Regions from separate parts of the Homo sapiens genome. Here region 1 is linked to region 2. The links come from fine-mapping of genetic effects on gene expression. Tissue or cell type: NK cells. Region 2 holds a variant in brackets; the other region holds the start of a gene. All regions are shown on one strand. Distances are between the middles of the regions.

Region 1 (2,649 bases), 23 kb after region 2:
GTAGGCACAGCTGTGGGACCGGGTGACCGCGCAGCCTGTGGGTTGGTGGGCTTTAGTCCTGCTATCATCATCAGCAAGCAGGGCCCTGGCTCTGTGGGTCACAGGGGCTTGGGGGAAGCTCTGAAGTAGAGAGAGGGCCACGCTGCATCTCTTAATACGGGAGCAGACTGGGATTTGCGGAGAATGGGCTGGGTCTGTCTGCGCTCTCCTCCCGCGTTGCCCAGAGTCCGGTCGCAGACTTAGGTACAAAGCCTCACACACCTGGGCTGCTGGGACTGAAGGGACCACCAGCCTGGAGGCCAAGAGCCCAAGCCCGACTTTGATGCTTCTTCCTCAGAAAGCCCTTCCATCCTCAAACCCGCAGGACCCCAGCCCCGGCAACACCTGCAGCCAGGACAGCAACACAGCCTCCTCCCTCCCCTCACATTGAGACCTTCAGCTGATATTGATGAAGAAAGCCTACGTTTCCACCAGAGTCCCTGGATGGCGAGACTCATCATTACCACGTGTTGGAAATACCAACTGACAACCCCCTCAACACCTGAGCCGAGCCCCTTCCTTCTGCTCTCCCCTCCCTTCCACCTCGCGTGCCGCCGTACAATTACTTGTCAGTCTCTCCTCTGGAGCACATGCGCCAAGAAGGCGGGGGTTTTGCTGAGCCACTGATGGACCCCAGGTGCCTAGTACCATGGGCAGTGAATGCAGATTCGCTCCCGACCCCTTTCCTGCAGGTCCACGACAGACCAGCTCTTGTCTATAAAAACGCAAACTCTGCTACAAAAGCCCACCTTCACACTGCTCTGGGGTAACATCTGAGGCCTCACGGATTCCACCCTGCTCCTCTGCCACGCCGGGGGGTGGCACAGGACAGGCAGGCGACAGGGTGGGGCTGAGGCGCAGGCCCTGCGACAACCCGCGGGCCTCCGCCCTCGGGCCCTCCCCGCCCTTCGTCTCCGCCATGCAAGGGGCAGGAGTGGGATCCGCGCGGGGCAGCGCGCACTCCGAGCCACGCAACCCCGGCTTCCGCCCGTCCCTTCCTCTGTCAAGGGGGACGCATCCACCCCGCCCGGCTTGTGGTGATAAAGTGGGACGCTGCGGGGTCGGAGCGGCCTCGGCCAGCTCACGGGAGGGGGTGAGTTACCGGTCCAGAGACTCCTGCCGCTCGGGGTCCTGGATCCCCAGGGAGCCCAGAATCGCATCCACCAGCGGCTGGTACTCGAAGATGATCCTCCGGAAGCCGTGCAGGAACGGCATCGCCGCGGGCCCCGCGCAGCAGGGCCGTCGCGCTTTCTGCCGAGGCCGAGATGCCCAGACGCCGACCGGAACGCTCCGGCGGCCGCGGACCCCACCTGCTCCGCCAGTCCAGCCCCTGCGCCCGGCCGGGTCCGCTCCTCAGTCCAAGCCGCGCCCCCGCCGGAAGTGACCCTCGTACTTCCTGCCCGCGCCGACTCAGGGTGGGCCATATGGCGACAGCGCCCCCTGCGGGCTCGGAGGACCTCGGCGCGTCCTGGGGCACGACCGCCAGGCCGACTCGGGCGATGTCCAGTGGGCGGCCCCAGCGGAGTGGGAGAGTGGAGGATCGAGCCAAGCCAGATCCGAGACTCAGGCGGGTCCGCCCCTTCCTGCCAGGGCCCGGCCCGGCTCGGCTTCGCCCTGCGATCCCGCCCGCGACCGCTGGGCGCCGTCCGAGTTCCGCCGGTCGTGCTCTCGGCCCTGCCGCTGCCCCACTGGCCCTGGGCGCCCCTGAGAGCTGTGGTCATCAGACACTGCCCCTTCCGGTTCGGGCTGGCCCTCGCCTTCCCTGAAGAGGGGCTGGGCCACCTCTGTCACCACCCGGCCCGCTGACTGGAATGATGAGGACCAGGGTACTCGCACGTCCCCTCCTCAGTTTCTTATTCTCTGTCCCGGGGAGCACCTGGCCAGGACGGCTGCTAGCCCTCTCCACCTCTGCCTTGATGGACTCAGTGAATCTTGTTTTTTGTTGTTGTTGTTTTTGTTTTTTTGGGGGACGTAGTCTCGCTCTGTTGCCCAGGCTGGAGTGCAATGGCACGATCTCGGCTCACTGCAACCTCCGCCTCCCGGGTTCAAGCGATTCTCCTGCCTCAGCCTCCCGAGTAGCTGGGATTACAGGCGCTGGCCACCACGCCCAGCTTATTCTTGTATTTTTAGTAGAGACAGGGTTTCACCATATTGGCCAGGCTGGTCTCGAACTCCTGACCTCGTGATCCTCCCACCTCGGCCTCCCAAAGTGCTGGGATTACAGGCATGAGCCACGGTGCCCAGCCCGAATCTTGTGTATTTTTTAGAGACAGGGTCTCACTCTGTCTCCCAGGCTGGAGTGTAGTGTAGTGATCATGACTCACTGCAGCTTTGAACCCCTGGGCTCAGGTGATCCTCCCGCCTCAGCCTCCCGAGAAGCTGGGAACACAGGAGTGTGCTACCGCCTGTCTCTGAACTTGGATTTCCTCATCTGTAAAATGGGTAGAATCCCCAGCACTTTGAGAGGCCGAGGCAGGTGGATCACCTGAGGTCAGAAGTTCGAAGCTGCAGACCGGCCTGGCCAATATGATGAAACCCTGTCTCTACTAAAAATACAAAAATTACCCGGGCGTGGTGGCAGGCGCCTGTAATCCCAGCTACTTGGGAGGC
Region 2 (2,500 bases):
TCTGCTGGCTGCTGGGCCAGGCAAAGGCATAACCCAGCTCTGCCCACCTGCCTGAAATCTCAGCATCTTCACTCGAGGGCCACTGGAGCCTGTTCTGAGGCACCACAGTGTCCCCTGCAGGGCCTACCAGGGAATCTCACACACAGTAAGGTGCTCAAGTATTTGCTCTTGAATGTGAAAGTCTGTAACTGTGTTTGTCTCTGCTTTTGCTCACATTTGAGAGAATGAATTCCATACTTTTATTTATTTGTATCTTGTGAGAAGTCATGTGTATATTTGGCCTGATTGGTTGAACGTTCTGAGGTTGGTAAATGTGTTTCACTGTTTTTGTTTGTTTGTTTGTTTTTTGAGACAGGGTCTTGCTCTGTCACCCAGGCTGGAGTGCAGTGGCACGATCTTGGCTCACTGCAGCCTCAACCTCCCAGGCTCAAGCAATCCTCCCACCTCAGCCTCCCGAGTAGCTGGAACCACAGGCATGCACCACCACGCCCAGCTAATTTTTGTAATTTTTGTAGAGACAGGGTTTCACCATGTTACCAAGGCTGGTCTCAAACTCCTGGGCTCAAGCGATCCTCCTGCCTCAGCCTCCCAAAGCACTGGGATTATAGGCATGAGCCACCATGCTTGGCCATGTGTTCCATTTCTAGTTCCTACCCTGATCCATCAGGAGTATCTACCTAGAGTACTGTGTGAGGAATGGTTCTGAGGCTCAGTGGGGAAATATGATCCATTAGTTTTGTCTGCTGTGGGTATGAGATGAGGAAGAATGATATGTTTGTGATGTATTTACTCTCCCTGGTCTTTAAACTCATGGGCAGTGCCATTCACCCTTCACCCCTGCTTAAGCCTGGAGGAATTTTAACCTGGAGGAACTGTTTCTGTCTTCTTTTCCTCCTCTGTTAAAACTATGGTGTCTAGGCCCAGGTAGGTTCCAATTCCTAGGCTCTTCTCTTACCTCCATCCCTTAGTTTTCTCCCAATATTCAACATATAGTAAAACCTAATAAAAGTTAGAGTAAGAAATGGACAAATGATGGTGGGATGGGTAAAATGATGGAAGACTGGGTGGGTGGGTTGATGGGTGGATGGACTGATGGGTGAGTTAATGAAAGGGTCTGAATAGAACTGAACTATGAATGTATGGGTAGATGGACAGATGCGTGGCTGGATGATTATGTAGATGGGTATGTAGGTTTGTGGATGGCTTTATGACTAGATTAGCGATGGACAGTGTCCTGGGTTTACAAGTGGATGGAAGGATTTGTAGATGGTTGGTCATTGGATCAATGGATGGATGGATAGAAGTGTGGGAGTTTTATTTTTTATTTATTTTATTTTATTTTATTTCATTTTTATTTGAGATGGAGTCTCACTCTGTCACCCAGGCTGGAGTGCAATGGCACAATCTCAGCTCACTGCAAGCTCCGCCTCCCGGGTTCACACCATTCTCTCGCCTCAGCCTCCCGAGTAGCTGGGACTACAGGCGCCCGCCACCACGCCCGGCTAATTTTTTGT[GT/G]TTTTTTTTTTTTTTTTGTATATTTTTAGTAGAGACGGGGTTTCACCGTGTTATCCAGGGTGGTCTCAATCTCCTAACCTCGTGATCCGCCCACCTCAGCCTCCCAAAGTGCTGGGATTACAGGTGTGAGCCACCGTGCCCTGCCGAAGTGTGGGAGTTTTAGATGGATGACTGGCTAGCTGGTTGGCCAGGTAGATGAATGGATCCACAGGACACCTGATTCATGGGTGGGTGGGTGAGTGAATGTATGGATGGATGGAGTCATGGGTCCATGATAGATTAATGGGTGGACAGAAGGATGGATGGATAGATGGAGAGATTCATGAACGGGTTGTAGAAGACTTGGTTCATGGATGAGATGGATGCAAAGATGGATGGGTGAATGGGAAAATGAATATATGAATAGATTCATGGATGAATTATGTGTTGGTAGAAGACCTCATTAATGGATGGGTTGATTCATTGATGAACTGGCGAATGAATCTTGAATGGGTTGGTAGAAGATCTGATTCACGGACAGCCATATGTAAGGATGGATGAATGGGTAGATAGGTGGATAAATGAATACATTCATGGGCGAAAGAGGAAAGAAAGAAGGAAAGAAATGCCCCTTTCCTCCACTACCCTACCCTTATCCCGCCCATCACTCACTGGTTGGCCTTTCTGACAGTGGTGAATTGTGAGTGATCACCCTTCAGGGGCCCCAGAATAGGTGTCTGCTGGAGCGAAATCTTCGTAAGACTATCCTGGAGGTGCGATGACTGGCCCCTTAAAGACAAACAGGCCACATCTGGCATGAGTGGCCAGGCTGTCCCGCCCTGGAAACATCGATGGCAACCCCGTCCCCACCAAGAAGCGGACTGACGCTTACCACAGGTCTGGGAGGAATGAACAGTTGGGACACCGCGGAGACCCTGGGCAGTGCTCTAATACACCCCTTTGATGTTGCGGTGCTGGGGATGCTGGAGCCAGGAGGAAACAGTTG

Which allele goes with the higher level. Positions count from the first base shown, and alleles are read on the strand shown. Sizes are in standard deviations (SD) of each study's normalised expression.
In carriers of allele G in region 2, the expression in NK cells of the gene that starts at base 1,406 in region 1 tends to be higher than with GT alone (small effect, 0.39 SD a copy in Gilchrist 2021).

The links. PIP is the estimated chance that this variant, and not a neighbour inherited with it, causes the effect.
Region 1: ASB6 starts here. The variant in region 2 is fine-mapped to the expression of ASB6 in NK cells (Gilchrist 2021, PIP 0.90).

The regions. Positions count from the first base shown.
Region 1 is chr9:129,640,746-129,643,394 of GRCh38, forward strand. It overlaps ASB6 (ankyrin repeat and SOCS box containing 6), which reads right to left and starts at 1,406. Exons shown (of 6, transcript NM_017873.4): 1 at 1,142-1,406. The coding sequence starts at 1,254. RefSeq lists an enhancer at 1-466 and a silencer at 1,173-1,772.
Region 2 is chr9:129,617,354-129,619,853 of GRCh38, forward strand. C9orf50 (chromosome 9 open reading frame 50) reads right to left here. Exons shown (of 7, transcript NM_199350.4): 2 at 2,387-2,477; 3 at 2,167-2,283. It also overlaps a transcript of NTMT1 not described here. Among named protein-coding and RNA genes, the nearest start is that of C9orf50, 2.5 kb to the right of the region's middle. The variant GT/G (reference allele first, on the strand shown) is at 1,515.